4 linked regions of the Homo sapiens genome follow. The protein of the gene in region 1 interacts with the protein of each later gene in a biochemical or structural test. Each region holds a gene or a part of one and is shown in the gene's direction. Other genes may lie near its edges.

Evidence for each region. Proteins that work in one complex are often made in the same cells at the same time.
Region 2: the proteins of HSP90B1 (region 1) and UBASH3A form a complex in vitro, tested with the Homo sapiens proteins (one large-scale study listed by BioGRID).
Region 3: the proteins of HSP90B1 (region 1) and PTPN11 form a complex in vitro, tested with the Homo sapiens proteins (one large-scale study listed by BioGRID).
Region 4: the proteins of HSP90B1 (region 1) and SUPT6H form a complex in vitro, tested with the Homo sapiens proteins (one large-scale study listed by BioGRID).

The regions. Positions count from the first base shown.
Region 1 is NC_000012.12:103,943,910-103,947,409, forward strand, and holds part of HSP90B1 (endoplasmin precursor), read left to right. Parts: intron 1-2,708; coding exon 2,709-2,787; intron 2,788-2,876; coding exon 2,877-3,032; intron 3,033-3,401; coding exon 3,402-3,500.
Region 2 is NC_000021.9:42,417,402-42,420,901, forward strand, and holds part of UBASH3A (ubiquitin-associated and SH3 domain-containing protein A), read left to right. Parts: intron 1-999; coding exon 1,000-1,208; intron 1,209-3,500. UniProt on the Homo sapiens protein: Interferes with CBL-mediated down-regulation and degradation of receptor-type tyrosine kinases. Promotes accumulation of activated target receptors, such as T-cell receptors, EGFR and PDGFRB, on the cell surface.
Region 3 is NC_000012.12:112,425,447-112,428,946, forward strand, and holds part of PTPN11 (tyrosine-protein phosphatase non-receptor type 11), read left to right. Parts: intron 1-3,500. UniProt on the Homo sapiens protein: Acts downstream of various receptor and cytoplasmic protein tyrosine kinases to participate in the signal transduction from the cell surface to the nucleus. Positively regulates MAPK signal transduction pathway. Dephosphorylates GAB1, ARHGAP35 and EGFR.
Region 4 is NC_000017.11:28,689,705-28,693,204, forward strand, and holds part of SUPT6H (transcription elongation factor SPT6), read left to right. Parts: intron 1-377; coding exon 378-525; intron 526-1,216; coding exon 1,217-1,359; intron 1,360-3,500.

The DNA.
Region 1 (3,500 bases):
GCCCCTTACCCAATCTTTGTTTTGGAGATAATACCAGCTTCAATACAAAGAGTAAAATTGCCTTAAATGTCTACCACTGTCTACTATAAGGTAGACAACAAGTTTACGAAGGGATTTCTCCTACATTTGATTGAGAAAGAAAAGGTCTTTGACTCATGATTTTCTGATTTTATTGTATTTGATATGTAAATGGGAATTTTCTTAATGTGTTATGCATAGTCTTTACTTTTGCATTGGATTATATGCTTAGCCTAATATCTGAATTTATTTTACATTTTTAAATGTAATAGCTGCACGAGGTTAATGACAACATTCCTCAAGTGAGTTAAGTCCATTTCAAATCACGTCCCCCACACCCCCAAGCATTAAATTATGGGTATCCAGATAGAATGTCTCATAAAGTAGACGGTACAGGACCTGTGAATTAACAGTATTTGAACTCAAGGGCCTATACCTGGAGGTATAGTGAGTCTTTGGTACTCTTTATTTTCAAGAAATATAGTATTTCAAGTTTATGTTTTAATGTCACAGCAATGATCTTGAAAATGACTTCTCCCCTACTTTTATTCTCTCTTCTTTCACCTGGAGTATGTTTCTGATATGCTATCTAGTCATCATCCTTTTTTCCCAAGGCCTAGCTTAAGGATTCTTTTTTTTTTTCCCCCGAGACAGAGTCTTGCTCTGTCACCCAGGCTGGAGTACAGTGGCGCAATCTCTGCTCACTGCAACCTCCGCCTCCTGGGTTCAAGTAATTCTCCTGTCTTAGCCTCCTGAGTAGCTGGGATTACAGGCACCTGTCAGCACACCCGCTAATTTTTGTATTTTTAGTAGAGACGGTGTTTCACCATGTTGGCCAGGCTGGTCTCGAACTCCTGACCTCATGATCCGCCCTCTGCGGCCTCCCAAAGTGCTGGGATTACAGGCGTGGGCCACTGCGCCTGGCCAGGATTATTATTCTTAAAGCCTTTTCTCACAAATGTAGTCTCCATTGTTGTCACAATTCTAAAATTCCATATATGTCTTTTAACTATAAATTTCATGCAGAGAATAGTGTTCTGTTTATCTGATATCCCATTGCAATAGTACAAGGGCCATTTAAAACATGTCCACCTATTAATTTCAGGAAATGATTAATAGGAAGTTACCTTGCATCCAACAAACATGAAGACTTACTATGTCCATGCACTGATGGTCACAGGTAGACATAACTCCTGTCTTTTCTAACATTTAGACTAGTGAAAATGACAAATCAAAGCCAGGCATGGTGACTCACTCCTGTTGTCACTCAGGAGGCTGATGCAGGAGTATCAGTTGATTCCAAGAGTTCGAGGCTGTAGTGTGCTGTAATGGCATTGCACTCTAGCTCTAGCCTGGGTAACATAGCCAGACTCCGTCTCTTTTTTATTTAAAAAAGAGGAAAAAAAGCAAGTCATAATCCGAGCCCTACATAGATAATGGGTACACCAGGATAGGGAAGGATGTGGTTCCTCCCTGTCCTCAGAGCTTTAAACTAGAGAAGAGAGAATAATCACAACCAACAGTAAAAAGCTAAGGATTTTGAAGGTATATTCAAAATGCATTTGGAACTGAGCTCAGATAAAGTTAATTTTTCTTGGAATCATTGGCGAAGGCATCGTGGAGAAGGTATTATTATTGGAGCACAATCCAGAGGCTACATAGATTTTTCTGAACTTGGGGAGGCAGAGCTACAATTACGGTAGTAAGAATAAACTAAGAGGGAACAAACAGGACATTAAATCAGTTCGTCTGTTCAGCAGTGCTCCAGGTACTTGGGACTCATCAGTAAATAAAATAGTTCCCTTCATTTCATTTTTCATCTAACCGTGTCCACTTGCTCCCCACCCCACCTCCCCGTTAAAAGGGAGCAATACAGGCTGGGCACATGGCTCACGTGTGTAATCTCAACACTTTGGGAGGCTGAGGTGAGAGGATCACTTGAGGCCAAGAGTTCAAGACTAGCCTGTGCAATATAGTGATACCCTGTCTCTATAAAAACTAAATAAGGAAACAGTGCAGTCATCCCTTTTTGTCCATGGGGTGTTGGTTCCAGAACATCCCATGGATACCAAAATCCACACATAGTCAAGTCCCTTAGGTAAAGTCGTGCCGTATTTGCATATAACCTATGCACATCTTCCCATGTACTTTAAATAATCTATAGATTACTTTTAATACCTAATGCAATTTAAGTGCTATGTAAATAGCTATTATACTGTATTGGGTTTTTTATTTTTTTCTTGTTTTGCCCTTTCTAATATTTTCAATCCGAGGTTGATTGACTCTGCAGATAAAGTAGACTGGAAAAGTACAGTCGTCCTTAGGTGTATGAGGGAGATTGGTTCTAGGACCCCTGCCAAAATCCACAAATATTCTAGTCCCCCAGTCTGCCCTGTGGAACCCGTGTATATGAAGAGTGGGAGCTCTGTGTGTGTGGATTCCACATCCCAAGAATACGGTATTTTCTATCTGAGTTTGGTTGCTGAACCTGCACATACGGAGGGCGGACTGTATTTATTGGAAAAAAAATAGCATATAAGTTCAAACCTGTGGTGTTCAAGTGTCAATAGTACATTTTGATTTTTTTTTTTTACCAAGAGTTGTTCTGTGTAATTATGAAAGAATAAGGGAAACGTATGAACCCTAAAATTGGATATGTTTTGTTAATGTTCATTTTTATCTCTTAACAGTTACTATGCGAGTCAGAAGAAAACATTTGAAATTAATCCCAGACACCCGCTGATCAGAGACATGCTTCGACGAATTAAGGTAGTATTAAAGCAGTCCTCTTGCTTGTCTTTTAATTTGAGTACTTTGTATCTTTTAATATTAATCTAGTGCATCTTCTTGCATTTCAGGAAGATGAAGATGATAAAACAGTTTTGGATCTTGCTGTGGTTTTGTTTGAAACAGCAACGCTTCGGTCAGGGTATCTTTTACCAGACACTAAAGCATATGGAGATAGAATAGAAAGAATGCTTCGCCTCAGTTTGAACATTGACCCTGATGCAAAGGTTTGTATCCCCAACCTTCCCGCAAAGGCTGGCTGGCTTTCTTTGTTTCTGTTCTTTCAGAATAGGCCTCTCATGATTGAGGGATGTAGCTTTGCGACATTTGCCTAATTTCTACCTTTTGAAAGAATTTTATTGAATGTTTGAATCCCTGTAGTGTCAGGCACTGCACTAGAAACTAAGTCCTCCTTTTACGTCCTCTTTCCTTTTTGCCTGCCTCCTTTTGTTAGCTTGGCTGTTCATTCTAGTTAAGAGGATTTAGTCTGTGGTTCTGAATAAACAGAAGTGACATTAATTATGATTTTATACATATAAATGAGCAAAGTGGAAATAAATCCAAGGCATTAATGGGCCCATAAATGTTGTGTTTAGGTGGAAGAAGAGCCCGAAGAAGAACCTGAAGAGACAGCAGAAGACACAACAGAAGACACAGAGCAAGACGAAGATGAAGAAATGGATGTGGGAACAGAT
Region 2 (3,500 bases), on another chromosome or scaffold:
CAACAGAGCGAGACTGGCAAAAAAAAAAAAAAAAAAAAAAAAGACAGAAAGGAAAGGACTATTGTAAAGATCTATGAATACATGTTTTGCTTATTAATTCTTTTTTATTTATTTATTTTTTAAATGTAGGGGCCATGCTAATCTTCTCTGCAGCATTCCAATTTTAGTTATATGTGCTGCCAAAGTGAGCACAATTCACTTTAAAGAATGATTTGAGTGAAACCTCATTCTGGGACTTCCTGCCCATGAATCGATGGGTTTAGAAACGAAGTGTGTGATGCTCCTTTCAGACCCAGAGAGCACGTGTGAATGAATCCACCATGTTCTGTATCGTATGAGGTGTCAATAACCTCACACCGAGGAAGGCGGATGTGAAAGTCTGCTTATGCCTTCAGATCTTTTGTAGACAAAAAAGTACCTAGATGGATGGATGATGGATAGATCCCAAAATGTATCTCTTTTTTTTTTCTTTTTTTCTTTTTTTTTTTTTTTTTTTTTTGAGAGGGAGTCTCACCCTGTCACCCAGGGTAGAATGCAGTGGAGTGATCTGCGCCCACTTCAACCTTCGCCTCCCAGGTTCAAGTGATTCTCCTGCCTCAAGCTTCCCAAGTAGCTGGGACTACAGGCACCCGCCACCATGTCCAGCTAATTTTTGTATTTTCAGTAGAGACGGGGTTTCACCATATTGGCCAGGCTGGTCTCAAACTCCTGACCTTGTGATCCACCCACCTCGGCCTTCCAAAGTGCTGGGATTACAGGCGTGAGCCACCGCGCCTGGCCCCAAAATGTATTTCTAAATCTATCCAAAGAATTCTATGCTGCGTTTCATTACATTCTGTGCTATATATTGCCAGACAAAGCTTTGGATGGAGTCTTGGAGACACAGAACACATTGGAGGGGCAGAAAGCAGGAGGTGGCAGGTGATAGGCCTCCTATTGCTGCCATTTTCCAATGTAAATCTTTGCTCGAGACGTGAAACCCCTTTGCCTCTTTTCTAGACCCTGAGAGCCCTATTCCAGTACAAACCCCAGAACGTGGATGAGCTGACGCTAAGTCCTGGTGACTACATCTTTGTGGACCCCACGCAGCAGGACGAAGCCAGCGAGGGCTGGGTGATTGGGATCTCACAGCGGACGGGCTGCCGGGGCTTCCTGCCGGAAAACTACACGGATCGAGCCAGTGAGTCTGACACGTGGGTGAAGCACAGGTGAGTGCTGCCTCTGGCTGCAGCCCCGTCATCTCTCTCTGAGTTACTGTGTGAGAGTGCCCACCTGCCAACAGTGTGCTTCTAGACCATTCCATTATTGGTAAAATTGCATTCTGTATGCTGACAAAATTATTCCTGCAGGTATATAGTAAACATCTTGGTTCGTCCCTGGTTTTCTGATGATAACATTCAAAAAAGAATGAATTACTCTGCATTAGAGTAATTTGAGATGGTAATCCCCAAATTACTGCAAAATACTACTTCTTTATCACACACATAATAAATTATACTCAGAGGTCCTGAGCTTGGGTTTATTTATTCTTCTGCTCCGTGTATGAAATGTAAAGTCCTAGGTCGTATTATTAGTTTTCTATGACTGTATAATAAATTACCACTAAAACAAAGTGCAATTATTATCTTATGGTATTTATGGGTTGAGAGTCAGAGTCCAGCTTCACTGGGTCCTCAGCTCGGGGTCTCAAGGCTGTAATCAAGGTGCCTGCCAGGGCTGGGCTCCCCACTGAGGCTTCACACCCTCGCCTGAGCATACACAGTTGTTGGTGGGAGTGATTTCCTTGAAGCTGTAGGGCTCCTGGTGAGTTGCTTCTTCATCAGCTGAAGAATCTCTTAATTTTAGCACCTTTTAGCATCATCTGGTGAGGCTAAGGATTTTCAGAATCATCAGATACTGGTTCTTTTTTGTTCGATGTTCTTCCCTCAATTTATCTCTTTCCTCTCCCGCTTCACTATAAATAACATGAAGAAACCAGGTGATACACTTAACACTTTGTTTGGAAATAGCCTTAGCTATGTGACCAACATCATCGCTTACAAGTCCTGCTCTCCATGGACAATTTCATTAAACTCTCTGGCACACATGGGAAGGATCCTCCTTGCTCCGATTTCCTGGAACACCTGTCACATTCCTTTCTGAGTTCTCCCCGGAGGATTCACCTTTAGCATCCCTATTTCCTCTAGCAGTCTGTTCATGGTGATTTGGGCTTTCTCTGCTGTGCTACTCAAAAGTCTCTTAGCCTCTACTCGCTGCCAAGTCCCAAAGTTGTTTCCACATTTTAAGTTCAGAAGGTTTCCAACTTACAATGGTTTGGCTTAGGATTTCATAATGTTACGAAAGTGATATGGGTTCAATAGAAACTGTACTTCAAGTGCCCATACAATCATTCTGTGCTACATTTTCAGTACAACATTCAACGAATTACATGAGATACTCAACACTTGATTATAAAATCGGCTTTGTGTTAGATTATTCCGCCCTATCATAGGCTACTGTAAGTGTTCTGAGCGTGTTTAAGGTAAGCTAGGCCAAGCTGTGATGTTCAGTAGGTTAGGTGCATTAAATGCATTTTCAATTTATGATGGGTTTGTTGGAACATAACCCCATCTGAAGTTGAAGAACATCCACTGTTTGTTAGAGTAGCACCCCATTCCTGATACCAAATTTAGTAAAAGTTTAACCAGAGATGCAGAACCAGTCACTTTCATACAATATATAATACATATAAGTATATGTACAGTTGTCCCTTGCTATCTGCAAGGGATTGGTTCCCGGACCCCCACAGATACCCAAATCCTCATGTTCTCGAGTCCCCGATATAAAATGCTGTAGTATTTACATGCAACTTATGCACATCACCCTGTATCCTTTAAATCATCTCTAGATTACTTGTGATATGTAATACAGTATAAATACTATGCAAATAGTTGTTATACGGTATTGTTTTTTATTTGTATTTTTTAAATTGTATTGCTATTTTTTAATTGATTAATCTTTTGAATATTTTTGGCCTGCAGTTGGTTGAATCCACAAATGCAGAACCTCCAGATACAAAGGGCTGACTATACATACATAGTATTTTATATTATATACACATGTATCACACACATATATATATGGAAAGGTATATATGTATACACACATCTATATTGATTTACTACAATGAATTGCCTTATGGAATTACTGGGGCTAGCTAAGCAAGGGCAGACAGGCAGGAAGGGAGGAGCCTACTTAGGCTGAAAACCCATGGGCAAGCTGAAGCTTGTTGTCCACATGTGGCAGTTGGAAGGACCACCCGGGTGATGGGAGAGCAGTCACAGACACAGCTGCTATTGAAGTCTCTGAGTGTGAGGAAAGCCTAAGTTTTTAAAAAAAAATGCCTTCCAACTGCATAAGTCAGACCTGCTCAGAATAACCTTGCTTTTGATTAATTTAAGCTCAACTGATTAGGGGTTCTAGTCACATTTGTAAAATCTCCTTCCAGCAGCACCTAGACT
Region 3 (3,500 bases), 8.5 Mb from region 1:
AACAAACTATAAACTTATTCCCCAAGAACAAATATAATAATTTTTCTGGAGTAGCAGGTAAGAAAGATATAAATTTATATGTATACAAGAAACTGAAATTAGACTTTATACATTTAAAGGTTACAAGTGCAGTTTTATTACATGAATGTATTATCCAGCATTGAAGTCTGGGCTTTTAGTGTAACCAGCACCTGAATAACATACATTGTACCCATTAAGTAATTTCTCATCCCTCAAACCCCTCCCACCCTGAAATTAGACTTTGGATCCCTAGTTTAAATTCCACCCCTCTCTTTTTTTGAGACAAGGTCTCACTCTGTCACCCAGGCTGGAGGGCAATGTTGCAATGATAGCTTACTGTAGCCTCAACCTCCTGGGCTCAAGGGATACACCCTCCTCAGCCTCCTGAGTAGCTGGAACTGCAGGCGTGCACCACCACATTCAGCTAATTTTTTGATTTTTTTATAGAGATGAGGTCGGAACTCCTGGGCTCAAGCGATTCTCCCCAAGTGCTGGGGTTACACACATGGGCCACTGCCCCCAGCCTAAACCTCCTTTCTCAGTATAGCAGCCTTGAGATGAAGTTCCTGAAATTACTGGCCAGCTTGACTGTTTCCCCACATCACTGGAGGAGGGGGATGCATAGATAAAACAAAATATTCAGCATCATTGTATTTTCTTTTTGTTTCATCAGCATCTTTTTTTAAAACTCACTTGACATAAGTCCCTAGCCTCAAAGAGTAAAGCCTTTGCAGAATCTGCATTCAGATTTCGGGTGTGATTTCCTGACAGATAGTTCAGGTTTGTAAACTCTTTTTTTTTTCTTTGAGACAGAGTTTCACTCTTGTAGCGCAGGCTGGAGTGCAGTGGCACCATCTTGCCTCACTGCAACTTCTGCCCCCTTGATTCACGCGATTCTCCTGCCTCAGCCTCCTGAGTAGCTGGGATTACAGGCATGCGCCACCACACCTGGGTAATTTTTGTATTTTTAGTAGAGATGGGGTTTCACCATGTTGGCCAGGCTGGTTTTGAACTCCTGACTTCAGGTGATCTACCTGCCTCAGCCTCCCAAAGTGATGGGATTACAGGTGTGAGCCACCGCAGCCGGCCAAAACTTTGTTTTTTTTCCTCTTTTTGTTGCTGAGAAATGTAAACTCTTACAGACACAAATTATGTCTCCCATTTTTTAAAACCCACTCAACACAGGGGTCATGTGTAATAGGCCCTGGAGCTTATTTTAGACATTGATTTGAGGCTCTTTTCCCCAAGTGCTGGTTTGTGTGTGTGTGTATGTGTGTGTAAGTCTTTCTATGAGATGAGTGGTACCTACCTGGGCTGTGTGATCTTTTTTATTTTATTTATTTTATTTTTGTAGATACGAGGTCTCACTATGTTGCTCAGGCTGGTCTTGAACTCTGGGGCTCAACCTATCCTCCCTCCTTGGCCTCCTAGAGTGCTGAGATTACAGGTGTGAGCCACTGCACCTGGCCAGCGATCCTTAATAAATATAGATAATGGCCGGGCGTGGTGGCTCACACCTATAATACCAGTACTTTGAGGGGCCGAGGCTGGCAGGTCACCTGAGCTGAGGAGTTTGAGACCAGCCTGGGTAACGTGGGTGAAACCCTGTCTCTACAGAAAATAGAAAAATTAGCCAGGTGTGGTGGTGCATGCCTGTAGTCACAGCTACTTGGGAGGTTGAGACAGGAGAATTGCTTGAACCTGGAAGGTGGAGGTTGCAGTGAGCCGAGATCGTGTCTTTGAACTCCAGCCTGGGTGACAGAGTGAGACCTTGTCTCAAAAAAAAATATAGATATAGGCTGGGCGTGGTGGCTCACACCTGTAATCCCAGCACTTTGGGAGGCCGAGGCGGGTGGATCAGGAGGTCAGGAGATCGAGACCATCCTAGCTAACATGGTGAAACCCTGTCTCTACTAAAAATACAAACAATTAGCCAGGCCTGGTGGTGGGTGCCTGTAGTCCCAGCTACTCGGGAGGCTGAGGCAGGAGAATGGCGTGAACCCGGGAGGTGGAGGTTGCAGTGAGCCGAGACTGTGCCACTGCCCTCCAGCCTGGGCGACAGAGCGAGACTCTGTCTCAAAAAAAAAAAATCTATATATCTATATATCTATATCTATATAGATATAGATATAGATAATGCCAGATGATGGCTGGTTAGAAGGGATTGTCAGGGGCTGGCAGGTTTTGCAGGTGTTAGAATGAGCAAGATGAGGAGAAGGATGCTTACTTCCCTCTCCTTGTAACTCTCTACCCCCTCCCCTCAGTGTTTTTTTATTTTTATTTTTATTTATTTATTTTTTTTGAGACAAGGTCTTGCTCTGTCACCCACACTGGATTGCAGTGATGCAATCATAGCTCATTGAAGCCCAAACTCCTGGGCTCAAGTGATCCTCTTGCCTCAGCCTCCCAAGTAACTGGGACCACAGGTGCGTACAACTATGCCCAGTTAAGTTTTTCATTTTTTATACAGACGGGGTCTTGCTATGCTGTCCAGGCTGGACTTGCACTTCTGGCTTCAAGTGATTCTCTTGCCTCAGTTTCCCAAAGTGCTGGCATTATGGGCATAAGCCACTGTGCCTAGCCCATCAGTGTCTTTTTATCCTTTACTCCTATCAAAATTCATTCACTCAGCAGCCATTGATCAAGTGCCTACTATATACATGTTGAGGACTGGAAATTTATTTGTCTCTTCTCATCTTATCTGGACCCTCTGTGTTAATTGTAATTAACTGTAATCATTCTGTATTAATTGTAATAAACTTGTTGATAAACTCAAATGAGGCCATACCGTTTTGCCACTTCCCCTCCTTCCAGGTTATATGGATGTACTTACATTGCAGGTTTCATTTGTTGGTTCAGTTTTTAAACTAAGCCCTATTGTGTCAAATTATGCTAGGTGTGAGATGGGGAGTTCAAGCTGTGTGTTGTCTTTTTTTTTTTTTTTTTTTTTGCCTCACTTACTAATATACAAGCGCTTATAACCTTTGAGGCTGGCCCTATACATTAAGATTTTTATTAATTCCACTGTTCTTTATCTTCTCTTACTAAGTTCTCAGGGTCGAATGAACTCTAACTGCTCCTTGCTAGTGATAAGCAAGTTGCAAATTACAGAATTGTCAGTGATTGAATACACGTATTAAACCTGTAACTGGGAAGCATTTTTGGTAATTATGAATACTTTTGGAAAAAAAAAAGCTATGGAAGGAAAGTTTAAAATCTACGAAAGCTCAAGTAGATGGTCATGGAATAGCTATTTCAATTTCTAACTATATATTACTTATTTATTTATTTATTTTTGAGACGGAGTTTAGCTCTTGTTGCCCAGGCTGGAGTGTAATGGCGTGATCTCAGCTCACTGCAACCTCCACCTCCCGGGTTCAAGCTATTCTCCTGCCTCAGCCTCCCGAGTAGCTGGGATTATAGACATGTGCCACCACGCCAGGCTAATTTTGTATTTTTAGTAGAGACGGGGTTTCTCC
Region 4 (3,500 bases), on another chromosome or scaffold:
GGGCTCCTCAAGGAAGTTTTTGGTCTGCTTGTTAAGGAGCCAGGGAAGTCTCAGAGATTGCCACCATAATTACAAGGGGCAGGAGGGAGTTGGGAGGATGTCAGTACTACAGTTTCCGTCTAGGCCCCCTTTCCTCCTTTCTAACAGCACAGCTTTGCATTTATCTGTGGACTCATTGGGGTTCCATAAAGCATTTTGATTACAGTGTTTCATGGCTAAGTTTGAAAACCACCTTTAGTAAATGTTGATGGAAAGAAAAGAAGAAGCCCTGACAGAAACTTACTCCCATCTGGAGAGGCCCGCCCCTTCCACGGGACTCCTTGAGGCTCAGGTTGGGGGGCAGCTGCAAGGCTCTTCTTGATGGGCTTCTTCCCCAGGGCTATGGTGACAAACACATCACACTCTATGACATCCGGGCAGAGCTGAGCTGTCGATATAAGGACCTCCGGACAGCCTACCGCTCTCCCAACACAGAGGAGATCTTCAATATGTTAACCAAAGAAACACCAGAGACCTTCTACATTGGTAAATTCTGGGGTCATTTTTTTATTGGGGGCAGGAGGTGTGTTTACTGTGTACATTCAAACCAAGCAGCAGTTCCAACAGATTGAGGCAGGTTTGTGTTGTACATGGGGAAGGCCAGGAGAGCATTTTAAAAGACTAAAGAGTCCTGGACTGGAAATCAAAACTGAATTTAAGGTCAAATGTGCTTCCAGTGTGCTATGGAATCTTCATGCAGTTAGTCTTCTTATAGGCTTTATTTTCCCCTATCATCAAATCAGGGGAACGGCCAGGCACAGTGGCTCATGCCTGTAATCCCAGCACTTTGGGAGGCCAGGGCAGGCAGACTGCTTGAGGCCAGGAGTTCGAGACCAGTCTGGGCAACATGGTGAAACCCCATCTCCACTAAAAATAAAAAATTAGCTGAGCGTGGTGGTGGGCACCTGTAATCCCAGCTACTCGGGAGGCTGAGGCAGGAGGATTCCTTGAACCTGGGAGGCAGAGGTTACAGTCAGCCAAGATAGCACCACTGCACTGCAGCCTGGGCAACAGAGCAAGACTTCATCTCAAAAATAAATAAATAAATAAAAATCGGGAAGAGTTCCCTCTTCAAGGATGGGAAGGAAGTCAGATATTCTGTCACTGAAAGGCTGGTGGAAAGAAGTGCTCTCCACATTCTCTGAGCCTGCTCCCCATCCTCTTTTCCTTCTTGCAGGAAAGCTCATCATCTGCAATGTCACTGGCATTGCCCACAGGCGTCCCCAGGGTGAGAGCTATGACCAGGCGATCCGCAATGATGAGACAGGGCTGTGGCAGTGCCCCTTCTGTCAGCAGGACAATTTCCCTGAACTAAGCGAGGTGTGTGCTGCAGCATTATCCTGCTCAGTGGATTTCCTTGGTTGAATGATCTCGGTGCCTAGAAGGGAATCAGAAATGAGGGTGTTCTAGATCATTCTCTCACCAAACAAGTACACAAAGAAGGAAGACGGACGGGAAACACACAGGTTTAGCATGAAGTCCCTTCTGAGAAGGCTGACATAGCTGGGCACGGTGGCTCACGCCTATAATCCTAGCACTTTGGGGGCCAAGGTGGGCGGTTCATCTGAGATCAGGGGTTCGAGACCAGCCTGGCCAAGATGGTGAACCCCCGTCTCTACTAAAAATACAAAAATTAGCCAGTTGTGGTGGCATACGCCTGTAATCCTAGCTACTCGAGAGGCTGAGGCAGGAGAATGACTTGAACCGAGGAGGCGGAGTTTGCAGTGAGCCGAGATCATACCACTGCACTGCAGCCTGGGTGACAGAATGAGACTTCATCTCAGAAAAGGAAAAAAAAAGGCTGACTTAGAAACTTCTTATGGTCGGCCGGGCGCAGTAGCTCACGCCTGTAATCCCAGCACTTTGGGAGGCCGAGGCGGGCGGATCATGAGGTCAGGAGATCGAGACCATCCTGGCTAACACGGTGAAACCCCGTCTCTACTAAAAATACAAAAAATTAGCCAGGCACGGTGGCGGCCACCTGTAGTCCCAGCCACTCAGGAGGCTGAGACAGGAGAATGGCGTGAACCCAGGAGATGGAGCTTGCAGTGAGCCAAGATAGCAGCATTGCACTCCAGCCTGGGCGAAAGAGCGAGACTCCGTCTCAAAAAAAAAAAAAAAGAAACTTCTTATGGTCGCTGGGTCAAAACAAAATGGCAGACAGGCATGGTGGCACGTACGTATAGTGCCAGCTACATCAGAGGCTAATTTGGGAGGATTTCTTGAGCCCAGGAGTTCGAGGCCAGCCTGGGCAACATAGCAAGACCCCATCTCCTTTTTTAAAAAAAGGGAGGGGCTGGCCGGGCGCGGTGGCTCACTCCTGTAATCCCAGCACTTTGGGAGGCTGAGGCGGGCGGATCATGAGGTCAGGAGATCGAGACCATCCTGGCTAACACGGTGAAACCCTGTCTCTACTAAACAATACAAAAAATTAGCCAGGCATGGTGGTGGGCGCCTGTAGTCCCAGCTACTCGGGAGGCTGAGGCAGGAGAATGGTGTGAACCCGGGAGGCGGAGCCTGCAGTGAGCCGAGATTGCACCACTGTACTCCAGCCTGGGCGACAGCGAGACTCTGTCTCAAAAAAAAAAAAAAAGTGGGGAGGGGCCAGGCCGGGCACAGTGGCTCATGCCTGTAATCCCAGTACTTTGGGAGGCTGAGGCAGTTGGATCACCTGAGGTCAGGAGTTCCAGACCAGCCTGACCAACATGATGAAACCCCATCTCTACTAAAAATATAAGGATTAGCAGGGTGTGGTGGTGAGACTCCTATCTCAAAAAAAAACACAAAAGGGAGGGGCCTCAGTTGCAGCTAAAGGGATCTAAGTTGGATAAACATAAAAGAGGATGGGGCACAGTCACACCAGTAATCCCAGCACTTTCAGGGGCCGAGGCAGGTGGAGTGCTTGCCCAGGAGTTCAAGACCAACCTGAGCAACATGGCAAAACCCTATCTCTACAAAATAAAATTAGCCAGGCTTAACCGGGTGCAGTGGCTCACGCCTATAATCCCAGCACTTTGGGAGGCCAAGGTAGGTGGATCACGAGGTCAGGAGATCGAGGCCATCCTGGCTAACACAGTGAAACCCCATCTCTACTAAAAATACAAAAAATTAGCTGGGCATGGTGGCGGGCGCTTGTAGTCCCAGCTACTCGGGAGGCAGAGGCAGGAGAATGGCGTGAACCCGGGAGGCAGAGCTTGCAGTGAGCCAAGATTGTGCCACTGCACTCCAGCCTGGGCAACAGAGCAAGACTCTGTCTCAAAAAAAAAAAAAAAAAAGATTACCCAGACTTGGGGGCGTGCGCTTATAGTCCCAGCTACTCGAGAGGCCAAGGTGGAAGGATCACTCGAGCCTGGGAGGTTGAGGCTGCAGTGAACCCTGATTGCACCACTACACTTCAGCCTAGGCAAAAGAGTGATACTGTCATAAGAAAAAGATGGCTAGGTGTGGTGGCTCACGCCTGT